3 linked regions of the Homo sapiens genome follow. The protein of the gene in region 2 purifies or fractionates together with the protein of the main gene of each other region. This does not show direct contact. Each region holds a gene or a part of one and is shown on either strand. Other genes may lie near its edges.

The links.
Region 1: the proteins of HTRA4 (region 2) and TTC28 purify together in Homo sapiens (affinity purification with mass spectrometry; 2 studies listed by BioGRID and IntAct, with this or other methods). This does not show direct contact.
Region 3: the proteins of HTRA4 (region 2) and OTUD4 purify together in Homo sapiens (affinity purification with mass spectrometry; 2 studies listed by BioGRID and IntAct, with this or other methods). This does not show direct contact.

The regions. Positions count from the first base shown.
Region 1 is NC_000022.11:28,102,841-28,109,840, reverse strand, and holds part of TTC28 (tetratricopeptide repeat protein 28), read left to right. Parts: intron 1-1,437; coding exon 1,438-2,779; intron 2,780-4,038; coding exon 4,039-4,562; intron 4,563-7,000. UniProt on the Homo sapiens protein: During mitosis, may be involved in the condensation of spindle midzone microtubules, leading to the formation of midbody.
Region 2 is NC_000008.11:38,983,721-38,989,748, reverse strand, and holds the end of HTRA4 (serine protease HTRA4 precursor), read right to left. Parts: intron 1,814-6,028; coding exon 1,651-1,813; 3' UTR 1,086-1,650; downstream 1-1,085. UniProt on the Homo sapiens protein: Serine protease.
Region 3 is NC_000004.12:145,135,180-145,143,271, reverse strand, and holds part of OTUD4 (OTU domain-containing protein 4), read left to right. Parts: intron 1-937; coding exon 938-1,076; intron 1,077-1,632; coding exon 1,633-1,893; intron 1,894-3,280; coding exon 3,281-3,321; intron 3,322-4,621; coding exon 4,622-5,842; 3' UTR 5,843-8,092.

The sequences.
Region 1 (7,000 bases), on a different chromosome or scaffold from region 2:
TTTAGTCACCACTGGAAAGCTCACAGACTGATGCATGGAAAAGCATGTTCAAAACCAAAGGCAAGGAGAAACCTGTTTGCATACTAGCTTCTCTCCACCTTTTCTAGTGGTGGCCCTCACTCTAGCCCCAACTGGGATGGACGAAGCTCTCCTTAAAGCCAGCTCCCAAGTTACCATTATGCTATCCCTCATTTGAAACCACTTTATAGTTATGATATGTATGATATAACTCACTTTTTTAAACTGCTTGTTAAAACAATAGTTTAGCTTAGCAGCTATAATATGGTTCATGAGGTTTGTTTGGAGCACTGTTATTGTTGATTGTAAAAGCAGTATAGCAGAATTACAAGAGATTTTAGAACAAAAATTACTGAAATTCCACTACCTAACAAGGCAACTATTTTTGTTTTTGTATAACCCCGTCAAGAGCTTGTCCGTGTGTATGGACATACTTACTTTCCTAGTTATTGTCACGGGAGCATGCAGCATTTTTTCCTGATTTTTCCAGTTAATATGATTACAAGAACATTGTTTCCCATTTTTCAGCATAGACTTCATAATTATCTTTTTAATGACTGCATAATCCTCTATTGAGTTGATATACCAAAATGTACTTATACAATCCCCCAGTGTTTCACATTTAAGATGTTTCTGATTTTCCAGTAGTTTATGGTGCCACATTGAAGGTTGTTACGTGTATTGTTATGCAATCTTTTGTGTTTGTCAGATTATTTTCTTAGGATACTTTCCCTCGAGTAAGATTGCTGGGTCAGAGTAGGAGCGCCGTTTGTGGTTCTTGCCAGGCTGCTTATGCAAAAAGGTTGTTCCAGTTTATGTCCCCAGCAGTTGGTGTGTTTACCAATTTTAGGACAATCTCATCAGTGTAGGAGTTGTGGTTAATTTTTTTGTTTGCTAATTTAGCCAAAGCAACATGGTACTTCAGGGTTGCTTTATTTTGCATTTCATTGATTATTAAAGGAAATTAGCATTTTCCCTTGTGGTTACTCTTTGTATTTCTGTGGATGTGAGTTGTCTGCTAACATTTACAGGTCTTCGCCTATTTTAGTAAATTGGGATCTTCATTTTTAAAAAATCAAACCAAATAAACTCTTTATACGCAATGGCTATTGAACTTTTTCATTTATGTTTAATATATTTTCCAGTATTGTTTTGCCTTTTAATTTTAGATATGTATTTGTAGTACAAACATTCTTATTTTTGTAATAAAATCAGTAAATGTTTTTTTCTGTTGCTTTGAAACTTAAGCTATCCTCTCTGTGGAGAGCTGATAAATATTTAATTCTACCTTCTGTTATTTTAAATTCTTTAATTCATCTGGATTGCATTTTACTATAAATTGAGATGCAAATTACATTTCTTTCTACATTGCAAATCAGTTATTTCAGTCTTAGTCTGTTCTTTTATTCTCTTTCTCAGGAATCATACACCAGATGAAAGGTGATTATGACACTGCACTGAAACTCCACAAGACCCACCTGTGCATTGCCCAGGAGCTGAGTGATTATGCTGCCCAGGGCCGTGCCTATGGGAATATGGGCAATGCCTACAATGCCCTGGGCATGTACGACCAGGCGGTCAAATACCATCGGCAGGAGCTGCAGATCTCCATGGAAGTGAATGACCGCGCCTCACAGGCCTCCACACATGGGAACCTTGCCGTGGCCTACCAGGCCCTGGGTGCCCATGACCGGGCCCTGCAACACTATCAGAACCACTTGAACATCGCCCGGGAGCTACGAGACATCCAGAGCGAGGCCCGGGCCCTCAGCAACCTGGGCAATTTCCACTGCTCTCGGGGAGAGTATGTCCAGGCTGCCCCCTATTATGAACAGTACCTCCGGCTTGCTCCCGACCTTCAAGACATGGAAGGAGAAGGGAAGGTCTGCCACAATCTTGGCTATGCCCATTACTGCCTTGGAAACTATCAGGAGGCAGTGAAGTACTACGAACAGGATCTGGCACTGGCTAAAGACCTTCACGACAAGTTGAGCCAAGCAAAAGCCTACTGCAACTTGGGCCTAGCATTCAAGGCTCTGCTGAATTTCAGTAAAGCTGAAGAGTGTCAGAAGTACCTACTGTCCCTAGCCCAGTCTCTGAATAATTCCCAGGCTAAATTTCGAGCCCTAGGAAACCTGGGCGATATATTCATCTGTAAAAAAGATATAAATGGTGCAATAAAATTCTATGAGCAGCAACTGGGCTTAGCTCACCAGGTAAAGGACAGAAGATTAGAAGCCAGTGCATATGCAGCCCTGGGCACTGCATACCGAATGATCCAGAAGTATGACAAGGCCCTGGGTTATCACACACAGGAACTGGAGGTATATCAGGAGCTGAGTGACTTGCCAGGGGAGTGCAGAGCTCATGGGCACCTGGCTGCTGTCTACATGGCCCTTGGGAAATACACAATGGCATTCAAGTGTTATGAAGAGCAACTGGATCTAGGGCAAAAGCTGAAGGATCCGAGTCTGGAAGCCCAGGTCTATGGCAACATGGGCATCACAAAGATGAACATGAATGTGATGGAAGAAGCCATTGGCTACTTTGAGCAGCAATTGGCCATGCTGCAGCAGCTAAGTGGAAATGAGTCTGTGCTCGACAGGGGCCGGGCCTATGGCAACCTGGGGGATTGCTACGAAGCCCTGGGTGACTATGAGGAAGCTATCAAATACTATGAACAATATTTATCTGTCGCGCAGAGTCTGAATCGCATGCAAGACCAAGCCAAGGCTTACCGGGGCCTGGGAAATGGACACAGGTAAAAATGACCAAGGACAATTGTGGTTTATAGTTCTGCAAAAAGAGCATTTGTGGCAGTAAAGGCAACTTCGTGTCTGCATGGCAGTTTGTTAACTACAAACATTTTCGTACATATCTCATCTGATTCCTCCAACAACTGTTTGAATCAAGTAGTTGATGTTGTTACCCTTATGTTATGGATGAAGAAACTAAAGCCCAGAGAAATTGAGTTAATGCCTAAGATTATGCAGCTTAAAAGGGACAGCTGAGAGTTAAACCCAGGGCTCTGTGACTCCAAATGCAGTGCCTTTTGACTACATTAGAATGAGAAGGATAATAGGGATGGGGAAGGTGAACGAGTCACTTTCGCTGATCTTTTCTGAATACCTCCCACATTATATGAATGTGTTTATTAATACAACATCTGCACCTAACCAATTACTTAGGCCCCATTGTGTTGCTCCTCAGAAAAGCCACCTGATAATAGGAGAATGCATAAATGTACTATGTTGCATGCATCATCTGTGCAAGGTCCCTTGCACAGATATCTTAATAGTTTTAACAGTTTTGTATTACTCTATATCTATTATCATCTGCTGTGGGATGTGGGATTTATTATCACCAGAATTGGAGGCTCAGGGGAACTAATTCATGTGCCCCACACAACTGGTTTGGTCATACTCTTTCCACGCTTATCGTGTCTTCTCTTAGCAGCAGAAAAAGACACACTGTTGGTCAAGGTGATACTTTCTCCTAAATGTGGGGAACCCAAGAAGGTGCCTGTGTCTGCAGGATATATGGCCCCACCAGAGAGGCAGGGGATTAGGGCTCCTGGAGTGGAGGAAGGGCAAGGGTCAAACTAAATCTTCACCCACAGAGTGCTCTGAGAAGCTCAGGGTGAAAGATTTATAGCCACTGTGAAGTGATTTCAAAAACATAGTCTAAGCGGTAGTGGAAATTGGGAGGCCTGAAGAACCAAACAGTTCACTTGCTATCATTGTGCCTATTAATATATTTTATGTTTCCTCTGGGGTGTATATCCCATTGAATCTCAAGCTCTTGGGAAGGTCACTAAGGGATGACTTTTGAATTGCTTTCCAGATTATGAAATTCCTCTGCATCTCACTCTAAGGGCACATGATAGATTTTAGCTAGAAGAGGAGTTAAGAGCTTCTATAGTAAGTGACAGTGACAAATGCTTTTCATTTTCTCAGGGGCTTTAGCATGTCTGCACCTGCATGAAATAATATCATTGCTTTTCTGTCTACATCCCCACAGGGCAATGGGGAGCTTGCAGCAAGCCCTTGTGTGCTTTGAAAAGAGGCTCGTGGTTGCTCATGAACTTGGAGAGGCCTTCAATAAAGCCCAGGCCTATGGAGAGCTGGGAAGTCTGCACAGCCAATTAGGGAATTACGAACAAGCCATTTCCTGCCTTGAACGCCAGCTGAACATTGCTAGAGATATGAAAGACCGAGCCCTGGAGAGTGACGCAGCCTGTGGCCTGGGGGGCGTTTACCAGCAGATGGGGGAGTATGACACAGCCCTGCAGTACCACCAGCTTGATCTACAGATAGCAGAGGAAACCAACAACCCCACGTGCCAGGGCCGAGCCTATGGGAACCTGGGCCTGACTTATGAATCCCTGGGCACCTTCGAGAGGGCTGTGGTCTATCAAGAACAGCACTTGAGCATTGCTGCACAGATGAATGACTTGGCGGCCAAGACGGTGTCATATAGTAGCCTTGGAAGGACCCATCATGCCTTGCAGAACTATTCCCAAGCAGTCATGTACTTACAGGAAGGTAGGTGAAAAGGCCCATTGTGTTCTCTTGGCCTACTTGAAATCAAGTTCAGAGTCAGAACTCAAGACTCAGAGGGAAGTATGCACAGTTTGAATGGCCACCTCTGTGTGGAGTAAGGGTCTCAGAGGCCACATTGTCAGTTCAACTCCAGAATCACGGTGTCCCCACCAGGTGTCCGTTGATAGTACTAAGGTGTTTCATTGTCCATAGCACCTTGCCCTGCTCTCTCGGACCCAGATTGTCTTACTCTCTCAGTGACAGCATCTACTGCTCGCCAGCTGCCCAAGGAGCTGATACCCTCCTTGCTTTTCAGAACCCTCTGAGGAATGAGCAGCACGTTCTCGCACAGATGAATCAAGTAAGATGTAATCCTAAAAAATTATAAGGGTTCGAATCAGAAGAAAATGCCCATCTGCTCCAGGCTCTGTTGTCCCTCTAGAGAATATCTAAACTAACTATATTAAAACTTTATAGAAGTCAGTTCTGACATGGCAGCTGAGGTCTAATCCAGAAGTATCAGTCTGAGGGGTACTCAAGCAGTAAACCAGGCTTCTTTCTCAGCATTTGTCACCTACAGTGCTTGGGTTGGTGCCACAGTAGGGTCTTGTTCCAGGCTGGCCTAGAAACTGAAGGCTGCACAGTTGGACCTTGGATGCTTCCTTCCTCCGAAAGCAGAAGTCCCATAGCAATGTATTTGCCCTCCACCTCTTTACATTGAGATGAGGCTTTCTGCTCTTGAAAGTCCTTCTCACACAGGCATATTGGATCCTCTCACCCTAGAAGGGAAAAAGGGCAGATAGCTCACTGGTAAAAGGAATGGTTACTGATTTCAAGCAAAAACTCTCATTTCCAGGGGGCTTTGCACATAAAGTTTATTTAAGCTGATTCAATTCTCACAATAGTCTTGTGAGGTATATCTTTTTATTCCCATTTTTGCAGTTGAATCACCTGAGGCTCAGAGAAGTACAGTGATTCAATCCTAATCATGTAGTCAGTTAGTCAAGGAGTAGGGCCCAGCCCGAGTTTTCCAACCCAGAAACCATACAAGATCCTCTCTGAAGTTGTTTCTAACTTTACAGTTGCAGAGTAGGGTTGGGCATCCTACCCGCTTTTACTCCTGAGCCCCCACTGGGAAGCCAGGAGAGAGAGAAGCAGCAAGCAAAGAGGAGAGTGGGTAAAGAGCTGATGATTCGCTGGTCTCCTTTGCAACAGACCAGGGACTGCACTGGCCTGCAGTCTGAGAGGTTACAGAGAGTCTGGAAGCCACTTCCCAGACCTTATCTACCTCCGCTTCTATCCACATGGGGCTCTGCCTCTATGCATTAAATGAGAATGTTGGCTTCTAATTTCCTGAAACTTGACTGTGGTAAAATTCCAACAGACAAGGAGCAATTTTCATTTGAATTTGTAAAAACTATTAAATTCAGTCATATGACAACTTTTCAGCTGTGTTCTTTTGTACTTCCTGAAATACTATTTCCATGAAACAGCTGGTTTGCCTGAGACATTGCAACACAATTCTATATTTGTGGAAAACTCTCAAGTTCATTTTTATTGTTTCTTGTAATTTTTTAAGTCTTGCAGAGATCTAAAAACTCTAATTTGTAGCATCTCTACAGTGTCTGTCTTGTGGATGTGTCCACTAGAGAGCCTGCAGCTGATGGCTTTCCTCGTGGGCCAAACCAAATGCCTCTTCTCATGAGGGCAGGACACCTGGATGGTGCTTTCCGAATGCTCTGAGTTAGGTCTGCAGCCTCTGGCAAGGAGGGACTAGTTTATCTGGAAACCACCCTACTGCTCCCTCTCCCCTGGCTTTCTGAGGGGATGAGGCTGTGGGGCCTTGTAGATCAGCATCACCCTGCTTCAGTGCAATAGACTCTCACAGGTGGGGCCTGGTCTGAGCCTTTTGAACAAGCTCTCCAGGTGCTGTGGAGGGAGACACCTCTGGATAAAACCACTGGTCTCACCCAGCCCTTCCTCTTCTTGCAAATGAAGAAAGGGAGCGTGGATCAATTTGGTGACTTTCCTGGAACCAGTCCCTGACAAACTATAGGTTCTAGGAGAGCTGGATGGGTGAGTCAGGTTCCTAAGAGGCAGAAGCAGAGAGAAGCTGGGGCAGGACAGATACCATGTCTATCCAGGGGGCTTTTAACTCTTCATTGTTGAACCTCAGCTAGAGTCCTACATGCTGAGGATATAGCAGGAACAAAGCAAAGTCCCTGTTTTCATAGAACATGGCTTCTAAGCAGGAGTTGTCTCAGTGAATTTTACTTCTGACTCATAGATCTTGACCTAGAAGGGACATCTGTATTGAAGAATTAATGTGTTTAGCTTATTGAAGGTTTAAACAATCGGTATCCTTCTGGTTTTCTCCCAAGAACCATCTTCTTTCATATGTTTTTCTATTCTGTGAGATGTTTAAAAATGTGAATTATTTA
Region 2 (6,028 bases):
TTATAATATTACCCAAAATAAGATGCTACTTTTCACCTAACCAAGTCCTGCCTCATTTCACACTTTAACCTCCTAAGTATATTCATAACCCTACCAAAAGTTGTTTTCTTTAAAAAATAAGAAACTTTAGGGCCAGCGCAATGGTGCAAGCCTGTAATCCCTGCACTTTGGGAGGCCGAGGCAGGTGAATCCTTTAAGGTCAGGAGTTCGAGACCAGCCTGGCCAACATGGTGAGACACACTCCCCCACCCCCGCCCAGTCTCTAGTAAAAATGCAAAAATTAGCCGGGCGTGGTGGCGTGCACCTGTAATCCCAGCTACTCGGGAGGCTGAGGTAAGAGAATCACTTGAACTGAGGAGGCAGAGATTGCAGTGAGCCGAGATCCTGCCACTGCACTTCAGCCTGGGCAACAGAGTGAGACTCTGACCAAAAAAGAAATTTTGCAGCTCCAAGGCTTGAAGTCATTTATGTTGCCAGGGGTAAGAGCTTGGTTGAAGGGCTAAAAGACTAGAAACTACTGAAGATGCCCTTCTTACTGTCAGTAAAGCTGCTGGAGACAAAAGAAGTTGTTCTCGCTGCTAGAGTGGTAATTTGAGAATCATCAGTATTCCTATGTGACAATCCAAAATTACTGGTTTTCATTTGACTTGTAAATGACACCCATCATCCATCTGCCCACAAACCTGGCCAAATGTGATACAACCTGAAAACCTGATGGACTAAAGGAGTACTATTTAACAATTGATTGCCTTTGCACTTTATTCAGGTTGTTTCTTAAATTTTGGTAGACAGATCCATTTGTATATGTGTGTGTTATATCTAGTTTATGGCTATAGAGAAGGTTTAAAATACTACAGTGTCCTTCCCTCAAGGTTAAATTAGAAGCTGCCTGCCTTTTAGTTGTTTCTTGCCTTTAATAAAATGTTATCAGTTCCCCCAGATTTCCTGGCACTGTGTTCTTCTTCCACTTGACATAGTCAGGCATCTTAGCAACAGTATAGTACCCCAACCTAATGATCCCTGAATGTGTATATGTGTTTCAAACTCCATTTTTCTTATTTTTTAATTGTAATCTCACAACATTACCATTTTTCTTTTTATTTTTATTTTTAAGTTCTGAGGTACATATGCAGGATGTGCAGGTTTGTTTCATAGGTAAATGTGTGCCATGATGGTTTGCTGCACCTATCAATCAACCCATCACCTGGGTGTTAAGCCCAGCATGCATTAGCTATTTTTGCTAATGCTCTCCCTCCCTCTACCCTACCCACTGCCAGGCCCCAGTGTGTGTTGTTCCCCTCCCTATGTTCATGTGTTCTCATTGTTCAGCTCCCACTTATAAGTGAGAACATGCAGTATTTGGTTTTCTGTTCCTGCGTTAGTTTGCTGAGGATAATGGTTTCCAGCTCCATCCATGTCCCTGCAGAGGACTGTTGCTTTTTATGGCTGCATAGTATTCCATGGTGTATATGTACCACATTTGCTTTATCCAGTCTGTCATTGATGGGCATTTGGGTTGATAACCATCCATTTTTCTTTGTAAGAAAAAGATCCAAAAACTTCTTGCCATGTTTGGCACATCTCCAATACAAACCACGTGATATAACTGGTTTTTTTTTTTTTAGATAATCCCACTTTAAAACAAGATATTTAATTGATTGTTTCAGGTATGACTGTCAGGAGCAAATTATCTTTTCCCCGAAGAACAGCCATGGAAAGGGAATCACTGTCAAGAGCTTTAACAACATCAGTTGTAGTAGTAATAGGTTTCCCATTTATGTTGACAATTACATCGTGATCTCTCAATCCAGAGCTGAGAGAGGGAGAAAAAAAAGAGGATCATGAAACTATAACAAGAATTTTACTTATCCCCATCTATAATTTAATATTTCTGTCTTAATGGCACTATTTTGCTGGCATTAAGCATACAAACGAGAAAATAGCCTCAATCCTTCCAAATCATAAAGCTATTCTAAAATATGCTGCAAAAAAGTCACCTAGAGGACAACTGTCTTATTTACCTTTATAAAATTAATTTCCTATCAGAATCATGTGAGAAGTTTACTCCTCCCATTTTGGGGAGTTGGTTTGGAAGGGGGAGTTTAGCTTTTAATTTCTATCAACCCCTGACCTCTGTGAACTTCAAACATGCTCCCAGCCTCAGCAGCCAAAGTGAAAAGCCCAAGCAATATGTTTTCTCCCAGACACTTAAACTCGGCTCAGTTTGATTCTGGCAGCCCACTCACTTGCCTGTCTTTCCCACCCCACCCCACCCCCCCGCCCCAGCTTATGGAGCTGGGAAGGATGCTGAGCTGCATTATAGGAATTCTGCTTCCACTAAATCAAAAACCCGCCAACCTTCTGAGTCTAAATATTTCCAGCTCTGGCTCTAGGCTCCTTTTCTCCAAAGTTGTGACTTTATTGCCTTCAACATAATTGCTTCACATAGAGTATATATTCTAGAAGCAAAAACCAGCTCCAAATACAAAACACTACAATACAGAAATAGCCATGCCAGTGATTTGGTGAAAATAGGCTGAAAAAGGAACAGCAAATGACTCCAGGAGACACCACTTGATAGAAATGGGAAGCTCAAGGAAGAATGATAATGTGGTTTGATCATCAAGATATGTGGAGTTTAAAAAGAAGAAGCTTAACGCAAGAGGATATGAAGAGACGCTTAAGTATAAAACTAAAATCAAGAAATAACCTTAGAACAAAGACAGTTTAGGAGGATGACTTAGGACCAGTGAGTACAAAGAAAGAACTTATAGAGAACTTAATTCATACTAGTCCTGTGAGTCAGAAAAGAGAAAAAGAAACCTGCAAATTATTACTAATAACCTATGCACCAAATATGAGGAACTATGGCTCAGACAGGACAAATGACCTTTTTCTGTGTCATGCAACTTGTGAGAGGGATTTCATCCTGGGTCTTTCAGACTTGGGAACCCATCTTCTTGCCACTAAATCACTCTGCCTGTCAGAAACAGAAAAGCAGCCACCAAAGCAGGATAATAGAAGGGTTCAGCCAGGGCCCACATCCCTGCTCTCTGCTCTCTGATTTACTGCGTTCTACAAGTTAATGAACCTCTTTGTACCACAGCTGCTTCCTCTATAAAATAATACCTATATCATAAAATGTTGGGAGCACAAACAGGTGTATAAAACACTTCAAATAGGCCAGGAGCAGTGGCTCACACTGTAATCCCAGCACTTTGGGAGCCACAGGCGTGTGGATCACCTGAGGTCAGGAGTTCGAGACCAGCCTGCCCAACATAGTGAAACCTCGTCTCTATTAAAAGTACAATAATTAGCTAGGTGTGTAATCCCAGCTACTTGGGAGACTGAGGCAGAAGAATCGCTTGAACCCAGGAGGCGGAGGTTGCAGTGAGCTGAGATCATGCCATTGCATTCCAGCTGGGGCAACAAGAGCGAAACTCAGTCTCAAAAAAATAATAATAATAAAAATAAAACACTTCAAATAGTGCCTGAGATATAGTAAAAGTTTTGTAAGTGCCAGATAGTGGTGTAATTATCATTATATTAGGTATAAGTCAGTGAAAGCCAGAAAGAATAGATTTGTTTGAGACAGGTTCTCACTCTCTTACCCAGGCTGGAATACAGTGGTGCAGTCATGGCTCACTGCAGCCTCAAACTCCTGGGCTCACATGATCCTCCTGCCTCAGCCTCCCTACAGGCACCTGCCACCACACCCAGCTGATTTTGTTTATTTTATTTATTTGTCTTTAGAAACTATGTTGCTCAGGCTGGTCTCAAACTCCTGGTTTCAAATGATCCTCCCACATCATGGCATGAGCCACCATGCCCAGTCCTGATTTCTGTTTATCAGCAACTTCCAGCACTAATTTTCACATTTTAACATACACATGAATCACCTGGGGATCTTGTTAAACACACAGATTCCGATTCAGTGGATCAAAGGTGGGACCTGGGATTCTGCCTTTCCAACAAGCCCCAGCTGAGCTAATGACGCTGGTCTACAGACCACATTCTGAGTAGCAAGGACTTAGCCGAAAGAAATAGCTTTGGTCTTGAACCAGAACTTAAGGAAATGGGGGAAGAGTGGAGCAGAGCAGGAATGAGAAAAGTCCAGAGAAACCAGGGACAAGCCAAATTTAGTAACATGAGACCTATGACTGCTGTGCTGAACAGTGCCCTCTGATTTCACTAGGGGGAAAGCCCCAGTGAAAGTGGTGCCATAATCTAAACAGATTACTGAGCTCTTGAAAAATAAAAACAATGAGAAAGGGATAATAAAGAAGTACAGACCGCGGGCGGTGGCTCACGCCTGTAATCCCAGCACTTTGGGAGCCCGAGGCAGGCGGATCACAAGGTCAAGAGATGGATACCATCCTGGCCAACATGGTGAAAACCCATCTCTACTAAAAATACAAAAATTAGCTGCGCGTGGTGGCACACGCCTGTAGTGCCAGCTCCTCGGGAGGCTGAGGCAGGAGAATCACTTGAACCCAGGAGGCAGAGGTTGCAGTGAGCCGAGATCGCATCACTGCACTCCAGCCTGGTGACAGAGCGAGACTCCGTCTCAAAAAAAAAAAAAAAAAAGAAGTACAACAGAAAAGCCCAGGAGAATGATATTTGTAGGACAAGCCACCTCTCTCAGTACTTAGTATTAAATGTTTTGAAACAACAGTGAAATCAGCTGGAGAACCTTCTTTTGGAAGCTGTCCTAGCCTTTGCTTTATTACACAGGTCTTAGCGCTGGCCTCTGATATTGTCATTCAGAGTTCAAAGAAAAATGTAGGTTTTGTGAGGTTTTGGTGTAGTTTTTTTTTGCTTGTTTGTTTGTTTGAGACAGGGTCTCACTCTGTTGCACAGGCTGGAGTGCAGTGGCATGAGCACAGCTCATTACAGCCCAGACTCAGGTGATCCTCCCATCTCGACCTCCCCAAGTAACTGGGACCACAGGTGCAAACCACCACACCTGGCTAATTTTTGTTTTTTGTTTTTTGTTTTTTTAAATGGGGTCTCGCTTTCTTGCCCAGGCTGGAGTACAGGGGCGTGATCCCAGCTCACTGCAACCTCTGCTGCCCAGGTTCAAGCGATTCTCTGACCTCAGCCTCCCAAGTAGCTGGGATTACAGGCATGCGACACCACACCCAGCTAATTTTTATATTTTTTAAGTAGGGATGGTGTTTCACCAAGTTTGCCAGGCTGGTCTCAAAATCCTGACCTCAAGTGATCTGCCCACTTTGGCCTCCCAAAGTACTGGGATTACAGGCGTGAGTCACGGCACCTGGCCTAATTTTTATTTTTTGTAGAGACAGGGTTTCACCGTGTTCCCCAGGCTGGTCTCGAACTCTCAGGCTCAAGCAATCCTCCCACCTCAGCCTCCCAAAGTGCTAGGATTACAGGGCTGAGCCAACATGCCCAGCCGAAAAATGTGTTTTAAAATACCTAAAATATGGCCAGGCGTGGTGGCTCATGCCTGTAATCCCAGTACTGTGGGAGGCCGAGGTGGGTGGATCACTTGAGGTCAGGAGTTCGAGACCAGCCTGGCCAACATGGTGAAACCCTGTCTCTACTAAAAATACAACAATTAACCAAGCGTGGTGGCGGGTGCCTGTAATCCCAGCTACTCGGGAGGCTGAGGCAGGAGAATTGCTTGAACCTGAGAGGTGGAGGTTGCAGTGAGCCAAGATTGCACCACTGCACTGCAGCCTGGGCAACGAGTGAGACTCCATCTCAAAAGAAAAAAAAACTATTAATGAATAATTAATAGTTACTAATACCTAATAGGTGTTAATCACTTAATAGTTATTAAGTAATAACTATTAATGTTGAAAGGGTAGATTTGGGAATTCCTAGCCAAATTAATTTAAACTTATGCTATTAACTCATAACATGAGCTCTTCTTAGACTATAGAGAACCACCTCCCTCCCAAAATACAAAAAAAGCCTTTATAAGTACCCAAGTCTGAATCAGCACTGTCCTGTAGACAATAATGCAAGCCACATACATAATTTTAAATTTTCTTGTAGCCAC
Region 3 (8,092 bases), on a different chromosome or scaffold from region 2:
TGGGAAATGGGAGAATTTTTTCTGGCATCACAGTTTGGCTGTGGTTATGATTTTTAAATGTATTCTGATGTTAGTCTAGAATGTTCTCTATTTATGGAATGTTATAGAAATAACCACCATTTTCTGGTGATTGAGACCATTTTTTTGAATTGACTTTGAATATATTTATATTTGTTATCGTTATATTTGATACTTTGTATTACTTTGGTAGATTTCCTTGAAAATTAGATTTTTGAAGGGAAACTGAATTTCTACTTTATTTCAAAATTTAAAAGAGTTATCTGCATCAGTTATTTCACAGATGGGAGGGAATGTACTGATTGAAAAGGTTTGAAAAATATACATTAAAAAAATACCAATTTACAAATTTCATGATGAACCTGTGTTCTAGCAGACATTTTAGTTCTTGACTAATACAAGAGTAGAGAAAGTTAAATGTTAAATGCCTTTCAACCAACATTCTTCATATTGGTAAGAAAGCATATAGTTACATGAGGAGTTTTTCTAAATAATCATGAATTTCAAGATTTCAATGATTTTGCTCACTTGCCTTAAAAGTATTGTGTTGTATTTAACTCTGCTAGTGGATAGGTGCGGTGGCTCACGCCTGTAATTCCAGCACCTTGGGATGCCAAGGCGGGCAGATCGCTTGAGCCCAAGAGTTTTGAGACTAGCCTGGGCAACAGGGTGAAACCCTGTCTGTATTAAAAAATACAGTCCTTGTTGGTAGGCAACCCTTGGTTAGGATCAAATTTGTTTGCATATTATCTTTAGCTACTGTGTGTTTTTCTTACATTTCTAAGACTATAAGGGCTATTTGTACTTCATTTGTATAAAAGGCAGGCAACTCAATATGTATCTGGTGGTTAGAAATAGTGTTAAAGCAAAATGACCTCTTGTCTTTTTCTGTCTTCCCCCACTCACCCCTTTCTTGAAGAAGCCAGCAGAACATGTGTCTTTGTCAAATCCAGCTCCCCTTCTAGTTTCTCCAGAGGTACATCTAACTCCTGCGGTGCCTTCTTTACCAGCCACTGTGCCAGCCTGGCCAAGTGAACCTACAACTTTTGGACCAACAGGTTAGAGAAGGGTTTAGAAAATCTAGCCAGCCAAAATACCTTTCTAGTCAGAGACTTCAAATTCTTGAGTGGAAGTTTGACCTCTGAGCAGGATTAGGTGTGTGGAGCCTCACAGAGCTTTCTGTGATACTCTGCTTTGCTCTGCTTCCAATGTGGAAAGACCATGTACATTTGGTGTTGTATTCATCTGACATATGCCCTCATAGTCTCAGGAGCATGATGTTTGAGCTGGTTGCTTTGGTTGCTCAGCACTAATTAGCACCACGGTTTGATGCTTCCTTCATGGGCCAGCTCTTTATGGCCCCGTAATGAACCCCTTGACCAGCCCCATGTCCTACACGTGCCTGCAAGAGCTACTATTAGAAGACATTGACTCAGAGCTTGTATCCTGGACGTATTTCCTTCTTGGTGTCCAGGAGGGCTCTTGGTTGATACTAAAAGGTACTACTTTAGATTGGCTTTATCAGTTATACAGCATTCTTTATAGGTTAATGTAAGCATATTTGTAGAGATTTTCATCTTTTGTCATTTTGATTCCTTTTCTTCTCTTTTGTAGGTGTCCCTGCTCCAATTCCCGTTTTGTCAGTGACACAGACTTTGACCACTGGACCTGATTCAGCTGTATCCCAAGCTCATTTAACACCCTCTCCAGTTCCTGTGTCAATACAGGCAGTTAACCAGCCCTTGATGCCTTTGCCTCAGACATTGAGCCTTTATCAAGACCCACTCTATCCTGGGTTTCCTTGTAATGAAAAGGGAGATCGAGCCATTGTACCACCTTATTCACTGTGTCAGACTGGGGAGGACCTACCTAAAGGTGAGCTCCTTCTCCAAGTTCAAATCGACTTTATCAAGTCCAAATAAGCTTAGTTAAGAAATGAAGAGATGTAAGTAGAGGTCAGAGGTCTGGTTTCTTAGTAAGCTCAAGGATGGGAAGGACAGCAAAGTTTTAGCTATTAGTCAGTCATTCTTGTTTCAGCTTGATTTATTAGAAAATGTATTATAATTTTTTTTTTTTTTTTTTTTTGAGACGGAGTCTCGCTCTGTCACCCGGGCTGGAGTGCAGTGGTGTGATCTCGGCTCACTGCAACCTCCACCTCCCAGATTCAAACAATTCTCCCACTTCAGCATCCTGAGTAGCTGGGATGACTACAGGCACATGCCACCAGGCCTGGCTAATTTTTTGTATTTTTTAGTAGAGACGGGGTTTCACCGTGTTAGCCAGGATGGTCTCGATCTCCCGACCTCGTAATCTGCGTGCCTTGGCCTCCCGAAGTGCTGGGTTTACAGGTGTGAGCCACCGCGCCTGGCCCAGAAAATTTTTTTTTGTTTCTAGCATACTTGTTAATGCTAGTATGCTTAGTAATGATACCTCCTTCTGTGTTTTTACATAAATGGACTTGAAACCATTCTGAATTACAATAATAATTTCACTAATTAGATACCTAAACACTGTGGAGCTTTATCAACACTGGTCTGCATTTCAGACATGCATCCGTGAAAAAGTTACAGAGAAAAGCAAATATAGTATGTAGTGGCTGTTAAAGTACTATATTTAGTATGTCTTATTTTTGTTTAAAAAATTCTTTCAAAGTTTGCTTTCCCTCTTTATTTTTAAGGAATTTACACCTCCCTCCTTTTTAGTTTCCAAAATTTTATATCTGTAAATTTGAGTAATGCACTGACTACTATATGCTGTTTACCTGGATTTATGTGGATGTTTTTGTTTTATTAGTTAGTAGTTTGATGTTTGTGTCTATGAGTAACTGGCTCATGGCATATGAATACTTGGAAGAATATTATCCTGCAAATGATGCTACTAATAAGTTAGGTTTTATGTTGATTTTACCATTCTTCTCAACATTTTTATTTCCTAATTTTTAAACCCCCAGAAAAGTTGAGAAAGAAAGCCACCTGAATGTCCTTTACCCAGATTCAGTTTTAATGAGATAAAAATTTCAATCTAAGCCATTTTGGGATTTATATGCTAACAGACAAAGCCTATTGAATCTGGAATTAACCTTTGGGAACAACCTGTTTTTGGGTTGTGTTATATTACAGTTTTTATCTATGTTTTGTATCACAGGCTAGAGAAGACAATTATAGTAGGTAAAATTGTCTTTAGAACTATATATTTAATGAGGATGATTTAAAAAAATCTCTGCAGATATATAATTTTAACAAGTGATTACTTTTATTTTTAGATAAGAATATTCTTCGATTCTTCTTCAATCTTGGTGTGAAGGTATTTACATTTTATCATCTTAAAAGTTATTTTATTCATTAATAGTGTTTTAAATTATTACTAGTGTTAACTCTTACCCTGTCAGTCAGTAACCTAAAGTTTACTAAATCTCATCATTTTAAAAACCAGCATTTTCAGTACTATATCGTTTGTTTTTGGTGCTAGTAGAGGCTCCAGTTTTACTTACTTTTTTGTCTTAACTGGTGATGGCTTAACCTGTGAGTATATTTAAGACATAGCTGCATCTTTGGGCAGCCTAGTGGAAATGCCCTTGCTGGGGAATAATTAGATGTAAATCTGGGCTTGAAGTTCTGCTCCATCACTCTTTAGCTGAATTTCCCTGGGCAAGCCATGTAGTGTATCTGGGCCTAGCTTTTTTCATTTATAGAATGGGGGTAATATTCTTTACTTGCCTCCATTATTGAAAAGATCAAAGGAAATAACGTGTACATCCTCCTATGTAAGATAGTGTGGTTGTTGACTAGAAGAGCAGAGGTATCCTTTGGGAAGTGGTCAACCTAGAAATAGCTTTTCTTAGGTTGGAGAACTCTGTCCTTGTTAAATGTTAGGTTTTCTCCTGACCTAGATTAGTTTTTGTGGGTTCTAGACAGTTAAACTATGAAACGAAGTGCCCTACCTTTAGCCTGCTGACCACTTTCATAAAAAGAAACTTGATTATTTTACTATCTGCTGCATTGCTTAATTTTAATGTATTTAATGTTGATTTTAATTGGTTAGCCAATTAGCTGGTTATACTTTCTTCATATTTTGGTTTTTAGCTGAACTCTTGCAGAGGAAGGATTTGGAATATTTCATTTTCAACATTATCCCTCCCTGATTAGAGGTCTAACTTAATCCTTACATTCGGAGTACTCTTGGGGGCTCCTAGAATTGCAGAGTCCTGACATTGGAGATCATCTACTCTTATACTGACATTCCCAGTAAAACAAATTCAGATGTTAACTGGCCTGCATGGGGTCACACAGTGAGTTAGTGGTAGAGCCCGAATGTGAATGCAGGTCTGGCTAAACAGTCAGTGATGGAGATACTATCTCCTATCAACCTATGAGGACTTCAGATTGGTTTTAGGACAGGAGCAAGCAATGGAGTCTTAAAGCAGTGAATTTTGTAATTCATTTTCACGTTGGTTATCACAGTGATTTAGTATTTGGACTATAGATTATATGGTCTTTGTAGGCATGAGAAACTTATTTTGACCCTAGTACTTGTAGATTGATATCCACCCAAACCTCTCTTTTTTCTCCTCTTTTGTTTATTTAACTGTTTTTTGTCTCTTCAGGCATACAGTTGTCCTATGTGGGCCCCACATTCTTACCTGTACCCTCTGCACCAGGCCTACCTGGCAGCCTGCAGGATGTACCCAAAGGTCCCTGTCCCTGTTTATCCTCATAATCCCTGGTTCCAAGAGGCTCCTGCTGCTCAGAATGAAAGTGATTGTACCTGTACTGATGCCCACTTTCCTATGCAGACTGAGGCCAGTGTTAATGGTCAAATGCCACAGCCAGAGATTGGACCGCCGACATTTTCTTCACCTCTGGTTATCCCTCCATCTCAGGTGTCTGAAAGTCATGGACAATTGTCTTACCAGGCTGATCTTGAATCTGAGACCCCTGGGCAGCTTCTGCATGCTGATTATGAAGAGTCACTAAGTGGCAAGAATATGTTCCCCCAGCCATCTTTTGGACCCAATCCATTCTTAGGCCCAGTTCCTATTGCACCTCCTTTCTTTCCTCATGTTTGGTATGGGTACCCTTTTCAGGGATTCATAGAAAATCCAGTAATGAGGCAGAATATTGTCCTGCCCTCTGATGAAAAAGGAGAATTGGATCTGTCTCTGGAAAATCTGGATCTGTCTAAAGATTGTGGTTCAGTTTCAACAGTAGATGAGTTTCCAGAAGCCAGGGGTGAACATGTACATTCTCTCCCTGAAGCAAGTGTGAGCAGTAAGCCGGACGAAGGCCGGACAGAGCAATCTTCCCAGACACGAAAGGCAGATACGGCATTGGCTTCCATCCCTCCTGTAGCAGAGGGAAAGGCTCATCCTCCCACTCAGATTCTAAACAGAGAGAGAGAAACTGTGCCTGTTGAACTTGAACCTAAAAGGACCATTCAAAGCCTGAAAGAAAAAACAGAAAAAGTAAAAGATCCTAAGACTGCTGCTGATGTGGTCAGCCCTGGGGCCAACTCTGTTGATAGCAGAGTGCAAAGACCAAAAGAAGAGAGTTCAGAAGATGAAAATGAAGTGTCTAATATTTTGAGAAGTGGTAGATCCAAGCAGTTCTATAATCAAACTTATGGAAGCAGGAAGTACAAAAGTGATTGGGGCTATTCTGGTAGGGGTGGATATCAACATGTGAGAAGTGAGGAGTCCTGGAAAGGACAGCCAAGCAGAAGTCGGGATGAAGGTTATCAGTACCATCGAAATGTCAGAGGGCGACCATTTAGGGGAGATAGGAGGAGATCAGGGATGGGAGATGGCCATAGGGGACAGCACACTTGATGGTTGTTGCCGAAGTATTTTCTAACAGAAACTCTTAGGTGGAATGTTTCTGAAGGCTTTAAAAAAAATACAATAAAGTAAAAACCGCAGTTGGAACTCTTTCCTCTCCCCAGCCCCCCTTACCTTCACTCCCATACTGGACAAGACATTTTGGACATGAGTTCAAGGGGGCAGGTTAATTCCTGGCATTGCCAGTTTTCTTCATTCAGAATCTGTTTGTTGATCAAGTGACTGTCCCCGTAAAAAGTAGAAGATAAGTTTGTTAAAGTATTTTTTATAAACAGCTTAATATAAAACATTATAGATTTAGTGTTTGGCTTTTTTCCTTATAAGTTTATAAGTTTGATTTCAGATGTTGGAAATGTGTGCTTTATAGTGTTTACTAAAGTGACAAGAAAATATACCATTTGACACACTATAGATTCCAAACATAACGTTGCACCAAATAGAAATGTATATTTTATTATGCAATGCCTTAGTCATAAACTGGGCTCAAACAATTCTCAGCCTAAAACACTGTTGTCTTTTAAAATGCTTCCAACCCAAAGGCCTTTCATCTCAATATCTGTCAAACTTGAATAATGTCTTCTCTTTAATATTCACATAAGGCAGCCTATTAACTGTGTCTTAGCAATGTTGTATATAGTTCTTTTAATATTCATAAGGTATATTTTTGAATTTTGGTATTTGTTGAGATTGCATAGAAGAATAGTAGGAAATCCAATGAAATGGCTGTTTCCACCAAGAATTCTTAGCACTGGTGTAAATATCATGGTGCCTACTCGAAAGAAATGTAGATGCTATGCATTTTGAAAATAATCTGCATCAGTTAGAACTGCAGAAGTTTTTTTAATGCCACTTTAACACTAATGCACTGACAGATTCTAAATATTTTGTGAGAAGAAATGTTAAAAATTTTTAGCTTGACAGGTTTCTAGAGTTGTTTTCTTCCTCCCCCCCCCCCCCGCACCATTGGTTGTGTATCACTTTCACTTTACACTTGCATGTTCTACTTGTCAGGGCTGGAACTATTGTATAGAAGATAATATGATTGTGACTTCTAGTTCTTTTCTAGAGGATGCTGCTAGAAAATGGTTTTGCTTTGTATTTTATAGCTTGTTACCCTTAGGTAGGTAACATCTTACATTCTGTTTTCTTCCAGTCTTTGCAGTATTCACTAGAGGTTCCCTTTGCATGTTGCACTCTGTTCTCATTTGGAGATTGAACTCTGAATTAACACAGTATTCATTCATCTGTGTTATTTTGTAAAAATAACTGTAGCTTATATTCTTTATTTGTGCATACCAATGTGAAAATCCACTCTTTTATTATGTTGAGATTATCTTCTGATCAGGAAGTTTGAGTGCTATGCAAATAACATAGTAGTAATTTCTCTTTGCATGCCATGTGTAATATACCTAGCCAAAACCAGATGCGGTGACTTTCTTTTTTTGTAAAGCAAATTACTTAAGAAAATACAATTCACTTGAATTTGACAAACTGAAACAGATGGGTTTTCTGGGTTCTCTGATAACCTATGGGAATGTTTGGATGCCAGTTGGGCTAGTGAATCGCCACTGTACTGTAATAATGGTTATTTACCTCTGTGCTGTTTTAATTACCTAACGTCTGTGTAACTGCTGATTTGAGTAGTGATTAGCATTTAGATAATGTAACAGGATTTTAGAGAGCACTTTGAAAGATAACATTTTATTATGATGGTGCTAGGTAAAAAATTGTAAAGACTGGGATGGTTGTGTGGAAAACTTTTCTTGAGAGAACCTATTGAAAGGAATTTGTTGTCACCTTCTTAACTAGAATAGTTGTTGAAGGTACCGCTTAAGCCATTTTTTTCTTAACATCGGTGGCTCAGTTAAGGAATGAGAAGATAGAGGGTCCTCCACTTTCAGCTCATGCTTTTTTATGTAGGACTAGCTTACCTGATTTTAATGAAAATCACATTTTGATACAAACACCAGATTTGAAAGTTCAATGTGTTTGATCTCAGGAGTCCAAAATAAGTTGTTGCTTCTAGTGTCCTGCATTTTATTGACTGGGGTTTGATCTCAGCTTCTGAAAATGTTTAAAAATTGGAAGGAAATACTACTCATATCTTCATTGTCACTTTGTCTTACCTCAATTGAGTAACAGAATATAGCTCCTGAAGGAAACACTGATTTGCTTTCTGTTTCCCATATCTCACCTCTAGGATATGATGGAAGAAGTGCTTGAAAGAGAATTTTAGCAGAT